Linked DNA regions of Homo sapiens. The protein of the gene in region 1 purifies or fractionates together with the protein of each later gene. This does not show direct contact. Each region holds a gene or a part of one and is shown in the gene's direction. Other genes may lie near its edges.

Evidence for each region.
Region 2: the proteins of SERPING1 (region 1) and SELP purify together in Homo sapiens (affinity purification with western blotting, with the first as the bait; one study listed by BioGRID). This does not show direct contact.
Region 3: the proteins of SERPING1 (region 1) and HRG purify together in Homo sapiens (affinity purification with mass spectrometry, with the first as the bait; one large-scale study listed by BioGRID). This does not show direct contact.
Region 4: the proteins of SERPING1 (region 1) and SEL1L3 purify together in Homo sapiens (affinity purification with mass spectrometry; one large-scale study listed by BioGRID and IntAct). This does not show direct contact.

The regions. Positions count from the first base shown.
Region 1 is NC_000011.10:57,595,289-57,601,426, forward strand, and holds the start of SERPING1 (plasma protease C1 inhibitor precursor), read left to right. Parts: upstream 1-2,396; 5' UTR 2,397-2,434; intron 2,435-2,922; exon of another isoform or gene 2,923-2,960; 5' UTR 2,961-2,982; coding exon 2,983-3,033; intron 3,034-4,590; coding exon 4,591-5,089; intron 5,090-6,138. UniProt on the Homo sapiens protein: Serine protease inhibitor, which acrs as a regulator of the classical complement pathway. Forms a proteolytically inactive stoichiometric complex with the C1r or C1s proteases. May also regulate blood coagulation, fibrinolysis and the generation of kinins.
Region 2 is NC_000001.11:169,587,389-169,592,130, reverse strand, and holds the end of SELP (P-selectin precursor), read left to right. Parts: intron 1-674; coding exon 675-705; intron 706-1,928; coding exon 1,929-1,983; 3' UTR 1,984-1,984; intron 1,985-2,261; exon of another isoform or gene 2,262-2,669; 3' UTR 2,670-3,282; downstream 3,283-4,742. UniProt on the Homo sapiens protein: Ca(2+)-dependent receptor for myeloid cells that binds to carbohydrates on neutrophils and monocytes. Mediates the interaction of activated endothelial cells or platelets with leukocytes. The ligand recognized is sialyl-Lewis X.
Region 3 is NC_000003.12:186,672,508-186,676,973, forward strand, and holds part of HRG (histidine-rich glycoprotein precursor), read left to right. Parts: intron 1-279; coding exon 280-360; intron 361-2,581; coding exon 2,582-2,683; intron 2,684-4,466. UniProt on the Homo sapiens protein: Plasma glycoprotein that binds a number of ligands such as heme, heparin, heparan sulfate, thrombospondin, plasminogen, and divalent metal ions. Binds heparin and heparin/glycosaminoglycans in a zinc-dependent manner.
Region 4 is NC_000004.12:25,848,529-25,852,994, reverse strand, and holds part of SEL1L3 (protein sel-1 homolog 3), read left to right. Parts: intron 1-4,466.

The DNA.
Region 1 (6,138 bases):
ACTGATTGAATATCTCAACATCCACACTAGGGAGAAATTCCGCAAACATCCTGATTAAGTCAGTTTCAGCTCCAGCTTCAGCAGGCAGGGGAGACTTCACAAAGCAGACATCATTTAAATGTGCAGAGTGCAGGAATGGCTTTGGCCAGAGAGCTATTATAGATGGCTGAAGGAGGTAGACCCACAAGCTGGGAAAACCTCTCCACTGGGGCTTTTTCACCCTGGAACTTTGGCCCACAAAGCATCGTACTCTTGCAGCTGTACCCAGAATATTCCCTTTGCTGTCTGCTTCAGGTTAGCCCCTGGTGTGTGTCAATAATTTGTAAGGGTTAATAAAGAACTGTTGGGTCAAACAGACCTGGTCCACATCCTGGCTCTGTCACTTACTGGCTTTGTGATATTAGGTAGATCAATTAATTTCTCTGAGCCTCATTTTAACTTGTTTAAGATGGGATTAATATAGCACCTACTTCATAGGTGATGAGAATTAGTGAGAGGATGAATGTAAATGCATGGTGAGCACTCAGTGAATTAGGTTGCTTTCCACCACCTTCTTTTCCTTTGGCTGACCCATTTCCCAGAATCCACAAGCTCATAGTCCCTTTGAGCCCACCAGCTTGAGCACTGGGGATGGAGAAACGTTGTTTTGTGTGCAGCTGTTCAAACGATGGCTCTGATGTTATATAACTTTCCCATGGTTTAGGAGGTTCCCAAGTGGCTTCAGAGAATAAAGCACAAAGCTGGGGAAGACTCTTTCTGGGTCTTGTCCAAGGACCCCCGAGGAGACACACAAATATTCTCCTGTTTCTGTCCTTGGTCAGTCCCTTAGAGTAGCAGTTCTGGTGCTAGCAGCAAACTTTCCTGAATGCTCCAAACACAGCCAGAGGATAGGCCTGCAGTGAGATGACGATAGAACATGATAGCTATATTAGGTCATCAGAGACAACCTGTTTGTTTTGCAGATGAGGCAGAGTTATCAGATTTAGCAAAAATACAAAATGCCAATTATATTTGAATTTCAGATACACAACAATGACAACAAAATTTATTTTACCATAAGTATATTCCAATGTAAGCATTTTTACCATAAGTATATCCCAATGTAAGTTTTTTTTTTTTTTTTTAGAGACAGCAAGTGTCTTACTCTGTTGCCCAGGCTGGAGTGCAGTGGCATGATCAATGCTAACTGCAGCCTTGAACTCCTGGGCTCAAGGGATCCTCCTGCCTCAGTCTCCTAAAAGGCTGGGATTACAGGTATGAACCCCCAGGCCTGCCTACTTCGTGTGTTTTATCTGGCAATGCTGAGAGGACAGCTAGATGTCGAGGACAGCCAGATTTCGAGGACAGCCAGACGTCAAGGGGGAAAGCAACTTGCTGGCTCACACAGCCAGCCAGGTCTATTGTGGAGCCCTAGTCGCAAACACATACACCCCAGCTTTCAAGTTTTTAAATATTTATTTAGTTAGTTATTTGTTTTTTGAGACAGTCTTGCTCTGTCACCCAGGCTGGAGTGCAGTGGTGCAATTTCAGCTCACTGCAACCTCTGCCTCCCAGATTCAAGTGATTGTGCCTCAGCCTCCCTAGTAGCTGGGACTACATGTGCGCGCCTGCACTGCCCAGCTAATTTTTGTACTTTTAGCGGAAACGGGGTTTCCCCATATTGGCCAGAGTGGTCTCAAACTCCTGACCTCAAGTGATCCACCCACCTCGGCCTCCCAAAGTGCTGGGATTACAGGCGTGAGCCACCGTGCCCGGCTAGCTTTTTTTTTTTTTTTTTTTTTAATTAGGTTGAATGCTTGTTGAGCTGGGTGCCTCACATCCGTTGTCTGTTATACAAAGAACTACTGATTATGGGTCTCTACGAGCAAAAATGGCAGAACACCTACAGGGCACAGGGGAGATGGGAGCAGGGATTAGGCTTCAGAATACTTCTCCAAATGAGGGTGATCAGGGCCCGACATTTCACTGCTCTAAGGCTCAGTATCTTAACTATCAAATGGGTACAATGGGGCACAAAGGGTTACTTTGAGGAATAACGGAGGTGAGCAATTTCCAAAAAGTTCATTCCTTTAAAAACTGCGGAGCACATTTTGTGTACATGCTGTTTTTATTGTTACTCATGAAGACGCGGGGGAAGCTTTGGTTGTGTAAAGCTGAGAACTGCACCCAAGCTTCCCCGTTCACCCCACCTACCAGGGGATTTGGGCTAAATTCCTGGCCTGGCCCACAAAGAAGACCAAGCGGTCAGTCCCATTCCGTCCCATCCTGATTTACAGGAACTCACACCAGCGATCAATCTTCCTTAATTTGTAACTGGGCAGTGTCCCGGGCCAGCCAATAGCTAAGACTGCCCCCCCCGCACCCCACCCTCCCTGACCCTGGGGGACTCTCTACTCAGTCTGCACTGGAGCTGCCTGGTGACCAGAAGTTTGGAGTAGGTTTGGTGCTGGGCAGGGGTGGGGAGTAGGGTGGAAAGCATGGAGTGAAGAGGTCTAGGGAGGGGGTCTCCTCACCCCCGCCTTCCTGCCCGCCTTGATCTCGGGGGTCTCTATAGGCTTGCTTCCACCTGGGACTTCTGCCTCCTCCTACCCCAGCCCCTCCCGCCTCAGGCCTGTTGTGCTCAGCCCCCCAGGACCTCCCCTCCCCCACGCCTCTGGCCTCATTGTTTGGTTAAAGCAGGACCCCCTCCCCCTCCCACCACCTCCCCTCCGACTGAACAGATGGACAGAGACCCGGGCCCACGGGGAGAGGAAGGGCCAGCCGGTGCCGGGAAAGGGAAGCGGTTTGGGGAAAACAAAACAGAGGGAGGAGCCAGGGAGAAGGTGGCCCCAGGAGGGAGGAGGAGGGAATTCGCTAAGAGGGACTGGGGCCTGAGACGGAATGGGGGCGGGCCCCGGGCGGGGTGGGGGCCCCTGGGCTCCCAGGGTGGGAGCTGGCTCCGAGGCTGGCTGGCTCCGCAGGTCCGCTGACGTCGCCGCCCAGATGGCCTCCAGGCTGACCCTGCTGACCCTCCTGCTGCTGCTGCTGGCTGGGGTATGTGGTCCCTTGTGGGATGGGGGACGGGGGTGGAGACGGGAGGCGGGATGGTGCGGGGTGCGGGCGGTGGCTGAGGATTAACCCTTCAGGCTCCGGGGAATGAGGAGAGCTCCTCTTGGGATCATTGAGTGTGATCCTTGCACACGCACTCGTAGATGGTGGAAAGAGCTCAGGACTCAGACAGATGCAAGTTCTAATCTTGGCGGGCCATGTAGGAGCTGCGCAGCGTGGTCCTGAGGACGTCACTTTTCTCAGCCTACTCCTCCTGATTTATAAAATGTTGAATAAACAGATCCCACCCTGTCCACCAAGCAGGCTTGGCAGGAGGATCACATAGGGCAAGGAGATGGGAAGCATTTTGTGATATCAAAGCAAGAGTTTGTTGTAGAAAAGAGCTGTGGGGAGGAGAGGTTTGGCTGCTGTGACACAGACGGTGGTCCCAGGCTAGGGCCTGTGAAGACAGGGAAGAATGGTAGCAAACATACGTGGGTCTGGGTGGGGGTCAATAGCAGTGAGAGGTCCCAGTGGTCTGGGAGGTCATGGACTAGAAATAAGGCTAAGAAGTGCAGGATCCCAGGAGAAAGGTAGGTAGGGGTGTGTGTATGTGCGTGTGTGTGTGTGTGCACGCGCAAGTTGGTATCACATACTCAGCAGATGATGTAGTTATGAGCAGGGAGTTTGGAATCAGAGACCTTGTTTTGACCCCTAGCTGTTTCTCCCATTTCTGTGAGACCCTGGACTAGTTAATATGTGTCGGTATGAGTTTCTCTACCTGTGAAATGGAGCTAATGCGTGGTTTCTCAGTGGAGGATCTGTTGACATTGGGGCTGGATAATTCATTGCTGAGGGGCTACCCTGCGCATTTTAGGATGTTTTGCAGTATATCTCTAGCCTCTACGCACTAGATTCCGGTAGCATCTTCCCTGCTGTCTCCCTGTGACAACCAAAAATGTCTCTGGACATTGCCAAATATCCCCTGGGAGTCAAAATTGTTTCAGAGCCGCTGGCCTATACTACTTCTCTCTCCCTCCCTTCCTGCCTCCCTTCTTTCCTCCTTCCCTTTCTTCGTTCCCTTCCTAATGTGTACTGTTTTTCCACACCCACTAATGGGTTGCAACCCACAGTTTAAAAATTTACTGTTCTAAATCAAGGAGCACAAGTTCAAATGTCTGTACTAGCCAAGCAAGTGAGTCAAACAGGTAGATATTTACAGGAAATTGCAAGAACATAGATAAATGACAACACTCAGCTTCACTGTTTGGAAAACAACTTCCTACAGGGCAGTAATTGGTCAGAGATTACAGAGTCCCTGACTATCCCTCATCTTCTGCAGAGCACATTCCTGTGCACCCCCACCCTCACCCTGTATTGCCCCTTCTCTGAGGAATTAGTGGTGGTGGTTCTAAGACAGATTGCTCATCTGCCGCACTGTCAGAAATTACTCTCTTGTACAGGACATTTTCCACATCCACACCTTCTCTTCCTGCTTTGAGTATTTTAGAGGACTGTGCCTCGTAGTAAGAAAAAAATGAAACTCAGTTTCTTGAACCACAGGATAGAGCCTCCTCAAATCCAAATGCTACCAGCTCCAGCTCCCAGGATCCAGAGAGTTTGCAAGACAGAGGCGAAGGGAAGGTCGCAACAACAGTTATCTCCAAGATGCTATTCGTTGAACCCATCCTGGAGGTTTCCAGCTTGCCGACAACCAACTCAACAACCAATTCAGCCACCAAAATAACAGCTAATACCACTGATGAACCCACCACACAACCCACCACAGAGCCCACCACCCAACCCACCATCCAACCCACCCAACCAACTACCCAGCTCCCAACAGATTCTCCTACCCAGCCCACTACTGGGTCCTTCTGCCCAGGACCTGTTACTCTCTGCTCTGACTTGGAGAGTCATTCAACAGAGGCCGTGTTGGGGGATGCTTTGGTAGATTTCTCCCTGAAGCTCTACCACGCCTTCTCAGCAATGAAGAAGGTGGAGACCAACATGGCCTTTTCCCCATTCAGCATCGCCAGCCTCCTTACCCAGGTCCTGCTCGGTAAGACCCTGCTTGAATTCTCTCCAGGTCATTTGTTGGACACTCCCATAAGAGTCACCAATCCAGACACTTACAAAGCCATGCCTCTGGGAAGAAGCTGTAAAAATGGGCTATTATATATTGGGGGTGGGGTAGAGGGATGTATCTTTTCATTCTTGAACATTCCATCATTTCACAGTGATGTAATAGGCACGATTGCTTGTAAAACTCTGTGACTATACAAGAACATATAAAATAAGGTCGCAGCCACTAACCATGTTTCATGGCAAGGAGAGGTGATAAGAAAGATGAAATTAGGCGCAGTGGCTCACGCCTGTAATCCCAGCACTTTGGGAGGCCAAGGCGGGTGGATCACCTGAGGTCAGGAGTTCAAGACCAGCCTGGCCAACATGGTGAAACCCTGTCTCTACTAAAAATACAAAAATTATCAGGGAGTGGTGGTGCATGCCTGTAATCCCAGCTACTTGGGCAGCTGAGGCAGGAGAATCGCTTGAACCCAGGAGGTGGAGGTTGCAGTGAGCCGAGACCGCACCATTGCACTACAGTCTGGGTGACAGAGCGAGACTCTGTCTCAAAAAAAAAAAAAAATTATCAGAGATAGACCTAGAGTAGATGTGGTTAGTACTGCCTTCTAGCTCTGTGACCTTGGGCAGATCACTTTAACCTCTCTGAGCCTTGAGTCCTCTTGTGTAAAATAGTGATGATGCTATCTACCTCAAAAGATTAAGAAGCAGAAAGCCAGGCCGGATGCGGTGGTTCACACCTGTAATCCCAGCATTTTAGGAGGCCGAGGCGGGCAGATCACGAGGTCAGGAGTTCGAGACCAGCCTGACTAACATGGTGAAACCCCGTCTCTACTAAAAATAAAAAGAAATTAGCTAGGCATGGTGGTGCACACCTGTAACCCCAGCTACTCAGGAGGCTGAGGCAGGAGAATCACTTGAACACGGGAGGCAGAGGTTGCAGTGAGCCGAAATCATGCCACTGCACTCCAGCCTGGGAAGACTGAGCAAGACTCTGTCTCAAAAAAAAAAAAGAAGCAGCCTAGT
Region 2 (4,742 bases), on another chromosome or scaffold:
GAGCTCCTAGACCTTAATCTCTATGATCATGTAGGAATCACTCTAATCTTGATGTTTCCCCCAAGTCCTTTCTTTGACTTTGAGACATTTCCAGAGGACCCTCTAACAGTGGAGAAGGACAAATGGCCACTCATGCCCCAATATTTTTAATAATAAATACATTCATTTGTTGGGGATGGGAGCTTTTTTCCTCAGCTTCTCCCAATTTGATTTTAGGCTTTGAAGTTTTCTATGGCCAAATAAGAGGAAAATGCTGCAGCCATAGCTGAAAATTCAACTATGAGAGTCTGTTATTTGGATAAAAATATGCTACCAGGGAGGAAAAACATCCACTGTTCTGTTGGTTTGGATTCATGTATGTGATTAGCTTGCTCAGCTAAGGGCTGAGGGCAAGTGACACAAGATGCCCTCAAAAGAAATTGATTTATGTATTTACTGAAAGGAAGGAGGAAGAAAGTGACAGGACTCTGGAGTTAAATATTGTCGAATGTTTAATTTAGCCTAAAACACTTTCTACCTTTCAGGGAGAAACTGTTCCCAATATTCCCCTTATAATGAGCCCTCCTGAAAATCAGTCTACTGGTTTTCCCCAGTAATTTCTATCCTTAATGACCCTCTCTTTCATCTTGTTTTTTTTTTTTAATCATTCATTCTTGTCTTCTTGCTGATTTTAGATGATGGGAAATGCCCCTTGAATCCTCACAGGTAAGGTAGAAATGTTTTATGATTGAGTAAATTTTGCTACCTTAACTTTATAATTCACTGTAATATGTCAGAATGATTACATGCAATGCCTGCCTCCTTTTTACAATGTCTTTTGCAATGTCTTCTTTTCTACTCTGAAGTAAAATACACAGATAACAAATATTCTAATTAAAATATAAAGTAGGAATAAAATGAAAAGTAATTTATAATAAAAACAAGATGCAAAAACTTAGGCGCTGTGCCAGTAGATGCAATGAGGTCATCAGAAGCGTGCACCTTCCACAGAATCACTAGGAAAGCAACGCCCACGCAGGTGGACTGATGGGGGAATGTTGTATTAGTGACTCAAAGAGCATTAGAACTGTGGCCAACACCAGCCTAATTTTTCAACATGGTGAACAACTCCGGTAAAGAGTCTGAAAACCTGTGATAATTGTCCTTTGATTCATATGGCAATTGCATTTTAAAGATGCAAAAAAATGCTTAATATTTACATGTAAAGTGCTTGAGTTCCAGGCTCAGAGATTTTTAACCTGTATGAATATCGAGCAGATATTCCAAAGTTATGTGGGATGTTGGACAATTCTTTTGTGTCCTGTACCCCTTGCTATTTATAATCTAGCAATAGTTTTCAAAAAGGGACAGTATGCCCCCAAGGGTATTTTTTTATTTTTGTAATGAACAAGAGTTCTACTGACATTGAGTGGGCAGGAGGCAGGGGTGCTGGATATCTTTTAAAGACATTTCCGTCCTGGAGGACATGGAAATCCTTATATGAACTCTATTGTCGTAGACATCCAGCACCCTTGCCCCATACCCACTCAATATCGGAAGAACTCTTGGTTATAAAAATCAAAAAACACCCCTAGGGGTCATATTGCACCCTTTGAAAACTATCGTTAGATTATCAAGTGTTAATGCCAAGAATTTTGTAACTACCTCTTGTCACCTAGAAGAGGTTGCAGCAACTTAGAGGGTATAACAGGTATTCAGTACATAAAGCATGAACAATAACTTAGTGTGGGTGCAAAATGCAATGCAAATTACCCAGAGCTGGTAAGTGGGATATCGAATATTTCTTTGGCATTTATTTTTCTTTCCTTTCTAAAGCAGAATTCCAAGGGTGGATGGTAATTTGTGGTTTCTGGAAATACTATGTGTTGGACTGTGTTGTCGAGAACTAAGCAGTATATTGTTGCCATCCTTGTGTTTCTGTTCTTTAGCCACCTAGGAACATATGGAGTTTTTACAAACGCTGCATTTGACCCGAGTCCTTAAGGTAAGATCCCTATAAAGATATTTTTGAAGGAAATAGAACACTAGGGAAAAATGGAAGACTATAAAGCTTAACTTTTCTTTACATAATCATATATTAAATTTTAAGTATGTATTAAATTTTCAGGCATGAAGGAAATTGTGTTGGCAGTAGGACACAGGTATGACAATGGAGTTACAAAAGAGTTCACAAAAGGATTTTCATTTCCTCCAGGACAGAAATGTCCTAACAAGACATAACTTATTTCAGGATGTGTAACATTTCCATTATTAACTGCTAGGTGGTGATGATGTGGCCTTGCCTGCAAAGCAGAAGTCAGGACTGCTGAAAAATGTTTACGAACTGTTATGGAGTCAATTCCCTATGCTACCTGCTGGAAAAACAAAAATAATCTGATGCTATCCCTCTCCCAAAAAGTGGGTAGTTGAGTGTCCTACAAAAAGCCTGAATGGCAGAATATTCGAAATCTAGAAAGAAAAGATTATGCTGCGCCTCAGGGTGTAGATATGATGAGCAATTTTTTTCTTTCTTTTATTTTTTTAAGGAAATGATAATTATTTAAATTTCTTTGGTCTCATTTCCAGAGACCTGTCCTTTTCCTGGTCTCCTCATTCAGCCTCCATATGATCCTGTTGTGAACATCAAGTTTCCTGCTACACTGGACTTAACTATAATGCATTTGCTGCAGGTTTCCATAAACACCCATGAATCAAAGACATGGAATTACCTTAGATTAGCTCTGGACCAGCCTGTTGGACCCGCTCTGGACCAACCCTGTTTCCTGAGTTTGGGATTGTGGTACAATCTCAAATTCTCAACCTACCACCCCTTCCTGTCCCACCTCTTCTCTTCCTGTAACACAAGCCACAGAAGCCAGGAGCAAATGTTTCTGCAGTAGTCTCTGTGCTTTGACTCACCTGTTACTTGAAATACCAGTGAACCAAAGAGACTGGAGCATCTGACTCACAAGAAGACCAGACTGTGGAGAAATAAAAATACCTCTTTATTTTTTGATTGAAGGAAGGTTTTCTCCACTTTGTTGGAAAGCAGGTGGCATCTCTAATTGGAAGAAATTCCTGTAGCATCTTCTGGAGTCTCCAGTGGTTGCTGTTGATGAGGCCTCTTGGACCTCTGCTCTGAGGCTTCCAGAGAGTCCTCTGGATGGCACCAGAGGCTGCAGAAGGCCAAGAATCAAGCTAGAAGGCCACATGTCACCGTGGACCTTCCTGCCACCAGTCACTGTCCCTCAAATGACCCAAAGACCAATATTCAAATGCGTAATTAAAAGAATTTTCCCCAAATGCCGTGTTCCTCTATTTTATGGTTTGTTCAGTAAGGTCTGTATACATCACATTGTTTACCATCAGTGTAATAACACACAATTATGGTTGTCCTATTTACACCTCAACCATTCATTCAGTCAGCAAATATGTATCGCACACCCTACACTGCAAGAGAAAATCAGAGAAATGGAAAAATTCTTCATCACCTTAATATTTTACAGGGAAGAACAAATGTGTTTTACATGTTCTTTAAATCCCATGTTTAATAAATAGGTCATTGAAAGTTATATAGTATTTATCTGGAACTGATGTTAAAAAAAATAGAGAGCCAAAAATTATAGTAGTCATCTTGTCTCTGTAAAATGTAATTAAATAAATATGTCATGTACACTGTATATACATAAGCAAACATGCAAATAAAAAAGCAGCCTACTCAAAGGTTACAATAATGTTGCAACAATTCTGGTAGTAACCTTGGGATTTAGGGACACAGTGCTTTCAAAACGTTTCTCTGATACACTGCCAGTAGCATCTCTGACTGCTTATTTAAATGTCAATCAGTAGGCTAGGTGTTCTAGGACTTTGGTCTCAACCCTGTTTCCTGAGTCAGAATCTACATTTTGTAAAAGTTCCCCTGGGAATTCTGATGGTCTGCCAACTTTGGGAGACACTGATAATATTGTAGATAAAGAAGTGTAAGCAACTGTTCAGTTAGGGAGACAATAGATACCTGCATGGAATAACAAAAGGTAATTAACATGATTATATAATTTGAATAGTGTTGTAATAGTTCATAAAATGGAAAAGCCAATTTGAGCCCAGAATCTGGGAGATAGGCAGAACTCTGGACTGTAAAGAATGGCCCAGCAAAGAGGAAGAAAATGGGCATTCTAAGTTGGTGCAATAATATCAGCACAGGAGAAAAGACAGAATATTGGGGGGAGTGGGGAGGGAGGAAGAGGCTGTTGATGAGCCTGATATCATTAACAGAGACCTCATGTGAGGTGCCAGATTACAATTTATTGAATGTACTGAATGCATAAAGCATAAGACAGAAACCTGGAGCCATGCAGATACAGGGAACCCAGGACAAGTCATTATGATGCCTCAGACAATATAATTCGCAGATTCTCTATCAATAGCAAAGTAAGATTTAAGGTGCTGTGAAACAGTCAGATCCTTCAAGAAAAACAAGAATACAAGGGGTCCTGGAGACAGGAAAATATGATCATAATAATAAATTTGTGATTCCTTCTTTCTCTCTTTTTCTCTTTCTTTCTTTTTCTTTCTTTCTTTTTTTTTTTTGATGGAGTTTTGCTCTCGTTGCCCAGGCTGGAGTAAAATGGCATGATATCAGCTCACTGCAAACTCCACCTTCCAGGTTCAAGCAATTCTCTTGCCTCAATCTCTCGAGTAGGTGGGATTACAGGTGTCCACCACAACGCCCGGCTAATTTTTTATATTTTTAGTAGAGAAGG
Region 3 (4,466 bases), on another chromosome or scaffold:
AATGAAAACTCTGGGAAGAAGTTGGAGTGCAGGAGAGGTGATTTTTCACACTCTACTTTATCATATATTTATTATTTGAACCTTTTCAGTGAACTGGTATTCACCTTATCACTTAGGTGATACATTTTTAAAAGGCAGAAACCATTTTAAAAAATGACACATACTGGTGATTTTGAATTCTCATACTGCCTTAAAAAATATTGAATGGTAGTTATCTACTGCTTTTTTTTCCTTTTTCTTTGTCTGTTCTTGAAACTATTTTGATCCCATCTGTTCTAGAGAGGAGGGGAAGGAACTGGTTACTTCGTGGACTTCTCTGTGCGGAACTGCCCCAGACACCATTTCCCCAGACACCCCAATGTGAGTATAAGAAATGTCTGTGATCGTTGACTAGAGTCACAGAGAAAAAAGAAAGAGAAGAAGGAGAAGGAGAAGGAGAAGGAGAGGAAGGAGAAGAAGGAGAAGAGGAATGAGAAGGAGAAAATGAGGAGGAGGAGAAGGAGGAAGAAATGTCTGTGAAATACAAAGTATCATCTGGGAAGCACTTAGTACCTGCCAGGCACTCTTCTAAGTGATTTACACATCAGATAACTTATTGTTTTGTTTTGTTTTTGAGATGGAGTTTCGCTCTTGTTGCCCAGGTTGGAGTGCAATGGCACAGTGTCGGCTCACTGCAACCTCCGCCTCCCGGGTTCAGGCGATTCTCCTGCCTCAGCCTCCGGAGTAACTGGGATTACAGGCATGCACCACCACGCCCAGCTAATTTTTGTATTTTTAGTAGAGATGGGGTTTCACCATGTTGATCAGGTTGGTCTCAAACTCCTTATCTCAGGTGTCCACCCACTTCGGCTGGGATTACAAATCAAAGTGCTGGGGTTACAGGCGCAAGCCACCATGCCCAGCCTATGATAACTTATTAACCCTCACACTACCATATGAGATAGATACCATTTTTAATCCCAAATTAGCAGATAGGGGAACTGAGGCACAGAGAACATAAGCGAACCATAAGAACATGATTTTATAATATACATGATATATACCTAAACTTAAAACTAAGTTTCTAACTGATTAGGATTAAAGGCTTAGTTAGAACTATAGCAGTTCGTACTAAGACCCTACGCCAAGTGGTTTTATTAATTCCACATCATCACACTCACAGGAATCCCACTTGACAAATGAGGAGGTAACTGAAAATCAGCAAAGGAAAGGTCTTGCCGATGTTCACAACCAAGCTGAGATTAAAACTTAGTTATTCTCATACAAAGTCCAGTGGGATTTTTCCTCTAATCATTTACAAATAGATTCCCATGTACCTGCCAGAAGACATTATTAATACCACCTGGCATTTGCATGGTGACCTACAGTTAAAGAAACACCTCCACATCTGTTATTGCCAGGAGAGCCTCATGAAAATCCTGCTGACAAGGAAAAGCAAGTATCTGCCTACATTTCCTGTGACAAGGGGACCTGAAATTAAAACCACTTACCTAAAGGCACTTAGCTAGAGAGTGTTAGGAAATGGAATTTTAATTATGATGCCAAGTCCAGGATTTTTCTGAGGTTTAACAACACATTCTCCCTGGTCAAAAGGGAGAAACCATCCATTAGTACCTTTGTTAGCTCTTCTAATGTCCACACTGAACCAGGTCTAGAAACCTTCTTAGCGCCCACCAGAAAAGACACCTCCCTCCCCTACTCCTATGGCCAACAAACCCTTCATGATCTTGGTGTGGATAATGTAAACCCAGAGTTGAAGCACCAGAGCTGAAGAGGAGGCTCAGGGGTAAGTGTTTTACAGCATCCTCTTGTTTAATTAATCCCTCCCACAACCTGTGAGTACATAGTATTATCCCCATTTTACAATGGCTGACTTTCAGAAATCTTTTGTAACTTTCCCAAACTCAGACAACTAGGAAATGGAGAAGCCAGGATTAACATAGGTCTCTCTGATTCCCAAACTGTACTCAGAACCTCAATGCTTAGCAATTTCTTCTAGCAGACAGCCGTCCTCTTGTCCTAGTCGATCTTTCACAGGTGGGTTTAGGAGCATCTGGAGCACAGGAGTGGCAGCCAGTTGTAGCCCTGGCACTTGGGTGGAGTCAGCAGACACTTGCCTTGACAATGTCCATGAAAACCCATCTTTATGCTATACAGATGCCCTCCTGTCCAACACTTTCCTCCAAGGGACCAGCTGAAGTTGTAAAAATCCCTCTTTGACACCATTCCTCATTGTCCTAGGCACAGGCAACTGAGGTCTCCAGTGCAGAAGGGTTGGCCTAAAGGCAAGGCAGCAATGATGTGGTTTTCCTCATCATTTCCATCACCCATGGGGAAGCCCAGTGCTGGTGCCTGCTCATGAAAAAAACCACAGCAACTTTAGTGATACCCTTCACCACCTGCACTTTCCCCAAAGTGTTAACAAGGAAAGATTGCTGAACGACTGGTGGGAATATCTGATCATATTACCCTGATTTTTCTAAAGCACTTCTTCCTTTTCTGAATGTCTGGAAGCTAACTCTGGCTGGTCATCTTCACACCACCTGGACACACACACTAACAGCTCCTCATTCCTTTGTAGGTCTTTGGATTCTGCAGAGCAGATTTGTTCTATGATGTAGAAGCCTTGGACTTGGAAAGCCCGAAAAACCTTGTCATAAACTGTGAAGTCTTCGACCCTCAGGTGGGTTGTCTAAGCAGACTTTGTCATGGCAGTGCCAGATTAAGTGACATACGTACACAAATAGTGTTGTTGCTTCCTAAAGCTCTATGAGTGGGTGTGTGTGTGTGTGTGTGTGTGTGAGAGAGAGAGAGAGAGAGAGAGACAGAGACAGAGACAGAGAGAGGGAGACAGGGAGAGAGAGAAAGAGAGAGACAGACAGACATGCAAGAAAAAAGATACAGAGAGTATCCCACAACTGGGGAAAGGAGTGCAATTGCCAGATTACACAAAAAGTATGAAAACTTTTCCAAGAATTGAAGAGGGGTAACAATTGGCAGAAAATTAAAATCATGTCCAATTCAACCAAACTTGAAGGAATTTGAAAATGCTCTTTGTAGTCGGGACTCTAGTGCTGAGACTTAGTCATTCCTAAGCTTATATTATTGGGCATAGAATCTAAGAGGAATATATCAGCCTCAAATTTATTATGTAAATGTATATAAAATAAGATGCAAAACCATATTTTGCATCTGTCTCAGAAATCTTTGGTCTATTTTTTACATGAGTACAAAGATTTGCTTCACGAAATTTTTCATATCAGAAACAAAACTTAAAATAATCCAAACATCCAATCCCAAGTTAAAAAAAAGAAAAAGGAACAAAGGGCAGGATTGTCACCATGAACATGGCTCTGTCTTTTTTTTTTTTTTTTTTTTTGAGAAGGAGTTTTGCTCTTATTGCCCAGGCTGGAATACAATGGTGCCATCTCGGCTCACCACAACCTCTGCCTCCTGGGTTCAAGCGATTCTCCTGCCTCAGCCTCCTGAGTAGCTAGGATTACAGGCATGCGCCACCATACCTGGCTAATTTTGCATTTTTAGTAGAGAAGGGGTTTCTCCATGTTGGTCAGGTTGGTCTCAAACTCCTGACCTTAGGTGATCCACCTGCCTCAGCCTCCCAAAGTTCTGGGATTACAGACATGAGCCACCGTGCCCGGCCTCTGTAGCTATTTTTTAAAAAATTAAACTCTGAACAAGGAAGAGAGAGAAGAGGTCAAGTGTTCAGCCTTTAGGAGTAAGGGATGTTGATACCATCAAGCCTCAGTTAAGAATATCAGTTATAAGGCACTAGTTTTCCAGTGTTGGTCTACAGATGGGTGCCAGGTCATAATATTGTTTCACCACTCTGTGTAGTAAAAATGAAAAAAAAATAAGGATAATGAAGTTTTTTATATCTAACATTTATCCATCTAAAGGACAATCCTTTACTCTGATATTGTGTTTCTGGCTCTTTCTTTTTTTTTTAAATCAAAATTTCATTCCAGGCTGGGCATGGTGGCTCATGCCTGTAATCCCAGCACTTTGGGAAGCTGAGATGGGTGGATTACTTGAAACAAGGAGTTCAACATGGTGAAACCTGTCTCTACTAAAAATACAAAAATTAGGAGTCTGGGCAACAGAGTAAGACTATGTCTCAAAAAAAGAAAAAAAAAAATTAGGTGGGCATGGTGGCTTGGGCGTGTAGTCCCAGCTACTTGGGAGGCTGAGGCAGGAGAATTGCTTGAACCTGAGAGGTGGATGTTGCAATGAGCAGAGATCGCACCACTGCACTCCAGACTGGGTGACAGAGCGAGACTCAGTCTCAGAAAAAAAAAATAGTTTCTTTTGTGAAACAATGATGGTGGTAAATGATAGTTATTGTTAATATTTTAAATATCAACTGGGCTAGATAACAATTTGAGAATCTTTTTTCGTAATACTTTTTAAATTGATTTGTGGAATCTATGATCTGGGAGCCATTGGTG
Region 4 (4,466 bases), on another chromosome or scaffold:
CTGTTGCATTTTTAGCAGTAAGATGTAAAATAATGAACACGGTTATTATGAACTGCACTTTTCTAGTAAAATCAAATGGTCATTACCCTGGCATTCTGTTTAAAAGAGGTTTTCACTGGAGATCCTAGCATCAGCACTAAAAATCTGACACCCCTTATCCCTACTCAAAAAATTATCAAAGTGGGAGAGCTGAGCCTGGGTGAGTTTTTAAGGTATACATGAAAGGAATGAGGAAGAGGTTTTAAGTTGTTCTTTGGGAAAGAACAAAGTGTGATATTTAATACACCTCTGCATGTCCTGGGTGCTGGGCTGCCCTTTGTCTCACAAAATAAGCAAATGTCTTATTTGACATTTGACTTATTTGTGGGATTAGTGAGGGAAACATTCGGGGCATTGCTTTGGAATAAGGCGTGTTGGCCACCCATTGGCTGGTTCGGCTTCCGCCAGCACCAGCGATCCCTGGCCTTGGGTGAAACTCTGTTGTGGACTTAACACTGTGATTTGCATCTTGAGAATGGGGGCGACATCTTGGCATATCTGGCTGAATTAATAAACCAGCACTTATGGACAAATGCTGGGTATATCCCTATTCATGTGGAAGCAGAATTTAGTCTAGAGTTTCCAGGAGGCCATGGAATGGTGACCATTAGTCACCATTGATATCATTTGCTATGGCGTGGGGAAGGTGGGAGTGGGTGGGTGGCTAGAAAAGGAGCCAGGTTTCTGGGCTTGCCTTTGCTCACCCACCAGCTGGGTGGTGTTGGAGAATGTCACCTCTTGATTGTCATTTCCTCGTCTGCAGAATAAGAGAGTAGACTGGCTTGTCACCAGACTCATCCACTGTAACATTCTCTGCTTCTAATTATGAGATGATTTTTATATGTGTTTCCTCCCTGTAATCTGGCAGCATAAACGAGAACATAAAACAATTAAACCTCTCCTGGGGGGGGTGGCATGGACAGTTTGCATTGTACCCCCTTCTTTATATATCTCTTCCCACAGGTTGCCCATGACTGGTCAAAAGGAATCACCAGCTCTTCTCCTATTCCCTCTGCCATTTGCAGAAGACATAGTTTCCACTGTGACCTTTTTTTTTTTTTTTTTTTTGAGACAGAGTCTCACTCTGTCGCCAGGCTGGAATGCAGTGGCACGATATCGGCTCACTGCAACCTCTGCCTCCCGGGTTCAAGCAATTCTCCTGCCTCAGTCTCCCCAGTAGCTGGGACTACAGACATGTGCCACCACGCCCGGTTAATATTTGTATTTTTAGAAGAGACGGGGTTTCACCATGCTGGCCAGGATGGTCTCGATCTCTTGACTTCGTGAACCGCCCACCTCAGCCTCCCAAAGTGCTGGGATTACAGGCGTGATCCACCATGCCCGGCCCACTTTGACCTTTTAGGACAGTTGCTTTCTCCTCACCTACTTAAAAAAAAATTGTGTAGTACACAATTCAAAAGTTAGGGAAGGATATACAGTGCATCTTTCTCTCTTATTCTGTCTCCTGGTCACCTCATTCTTATCCGTGTAAGCAACCAGTGATATGTGTATTCAAGTGACTATACACATGTACATATATATGTGTGTGTGTGGTGTGAGTGTGTATTTAATCCAAATGGTATTTCTGAGTCTGTTTTTTAAAAGCAAGCAAAAAAATGGGAAGTGACTGCCAGTGGGTACTGGGTTTCATTTTGGGGCAATGAAATGTTTGAAAATTGATTGTTGTAATGATTGATTGTTGACTAACTCTGTAAATCTACTAGAAAACGTTGCAATTTACACTTTCAGTGTGTGAATTGTGTGGTGTGAATTATATTCCAACAAACCTGAAATTTCAAAACCTGGGCTGGGCACAGTGGCTCACGCCTGTAATCCCAGCACTTTGGGAGGCTGAAGTGGGTGGATTACTTGAGGTCAGGAGTTCGAGACCAGCCTGGCCAACATCGTGAAACCCCATCTCTACTAAAAATACAAAAATCAGCCGGGTGTGGTGGCAGGTGCCTGTAATCCCAGCTACTCGGGAGGCTGAGGCAGGAGAATCACTTGAACCTGGGCGGCAGAGGTTGCAGTGAGCCGAGATTGCGTCACTGCACTCCAGCCTGGATGACAGAGTGAGACTCCAACTCAAAAAAAAAAACAAACAAACAAAAAAAAGAAAACCCTGAAAATTCAAAAACAAACAAAAAAACCAGACAGAAAACCCTTTGCGATCATTCCATTTTCTGTACGTGAAGAGCTTCCTCCTTTTAATAGCTGTATGGTACTCCATGAGTGGATGTACTATTTTTATTTAACCAGCTCCCTCTTGATGAGTTTAGGCTTCCCTATCTCCTGCAATTGCAAACTGTACTGGTGTGAAAATCTACACAAACATCATTTTGCACAACTTTCAGTGTATTAGTAGGTTAAACTCCTAGTAGTGAAATTATTGGTCCAGAGGGTGAGTGCATTTATAATTTTAGTAGATATTACTTGATTGGCCTCATAAAGATTAGAGATTACTGCCACCAACAATACATAAGAGGGCATGCTTCCTACACTCTGGTCAGTACGATGTGTTATCTGACTTTTTGATCTTTGCAAATCTAGTAGGGAAAAAATGGTATCTCAGTGCAGTTTCAGTTTGCATTTATCTTACTATGAATGAGCATTTACTTGTTGATTAGCTATGTCATTTGCTCATTTTTGTATGAATTGTTAGCCTTGTTTCTAATTGACATTGACTATCAGTTGCTTTAAAAGGGAGACACCACCCCCTTGTACAGAAACCTTTGTTGATTCTTTGCTGTCGGTAGAATAAAAGTTCACATTCGTTGGGCTGGGACTCAATGTTCTCCAGGGCCAAACTCTACTTTTCTTTTTAACCTCATACCTGCGTGTCCACATAGCTGCTTGCTATTCCCCAAGTACACCTGCATTCCCCTGCCTCTTGCCCGGCTTATGCTGTTCACACCCCTTGCAGTGCCTTTCCCTTGTGTCTCTACGTGAAGAACTTCTTTTCGTCCCTCAAAGCCCAACTGAGATACCGTTTCTTCCATAAAGCCTATCCCAGACCTTCCAGTTAGAATTATTCTCTCTCAGTGCTATGCACCCTTGGGCTTGTTTACAGTTTGATGGGAACACTGACCACGTTTCGCCTGTATTGCCATTATTTATAGACACGATTCCTTGATACCAAATTTCATGTCTTGTCCATCTTTGCCTCTCCCGCAGCTCTAAGTCAGAATTGAAAAAAGGAGTCCTTATTTTTTTCCTCAGAGGAGACCAAAGTGACTTTTTTCTTTTAAATTGTGGTAAAAATATGCAAGCATTAAAATGTACCTTTTTAATCATTTCTAAGTGTACAGTTCAGTGGTGTTAAGGACATTCCCACTGTTTTGCAACCAGCACCACTTTCTGTCTCACTATTTCATCGTCCCAAACTGAAACTCTGGACCCATTAAATCCTAACTCCTCAATCCCCTCTTCCCTTAGGCCCTGGTAACCTCTTTTCTCCCTTCTGTCTCTGTGAGTTTGACTACTCTAGGTGCTTCATGTAGGCGGATGATATAATGTCTGTTCTCTTGTGTCTAGCTTGTTTTCCTTAGCCTCATCTCCTCAAAGTTCATCCATTTTACAGCATACATCAGAATTTCATTCCCTTTTATGGGCTGAATAATATTCCATCCCATGTATATACCACATTTTTTCTACCCATTCATCCATGGATGGACCCTTGGGGTTGCTTTTGGCTAGCGTGAGTAATGCTGTTATGAACACGGGTGTACAAACATCTCTTCAAGTCCTTGCTTTAAATTTTTGGGGTGTATATCCAGAAGTGGAATTGCTGGGTCTGATCATACCATAATTCTTTTTTGAGATGGAGTCTCACTCTGTTGCCCAGGGTGGAGTGCAGTGGTGTGATCTTGGCTCACTGCAACCTCCACCTCCCGGGTTCAAGTGATTCTCCTGCCTCAGCCTCCCAAGGAGCTGGAATTACAGGTGTGCACCACCTTGCCCAACTGATTTTTGTATTATTAGTAAAGACAGGGTTTCACCATGTTGACCAGGCTGGTCTTGAACTCCTGACCTCAAGTGATCCACCCACCTGGGCCTCCCAAAGTTATGGGATTGAAGGCATGAGCCACCACGCCCAGTCTGATCATATGATAATTCTGTGTCTAATTTATTTGAGGAACTGCTATACTATTTTCCATAGTAGCCACACCATTTTACATTCTCATTAAGAGTGCATAAGGGTTCCAGTTTCTCCACATCTTCACCAACACTTGTTATTTTCTCTCTGTGTGTATGCGTTGTGTGTGTTTAATAATAGCCACCCTAATGGATATGCAGTGGTCCAAAGTGACCTTTTTCTATTGTGTTTTGGATACTTGAATCACAAAGTCATATTTAGGAGAGCTCTTAGCACTCACATATCAGCACCTCATGCTCAAAACCTTGCATTGATTTCATGACCAGATAAA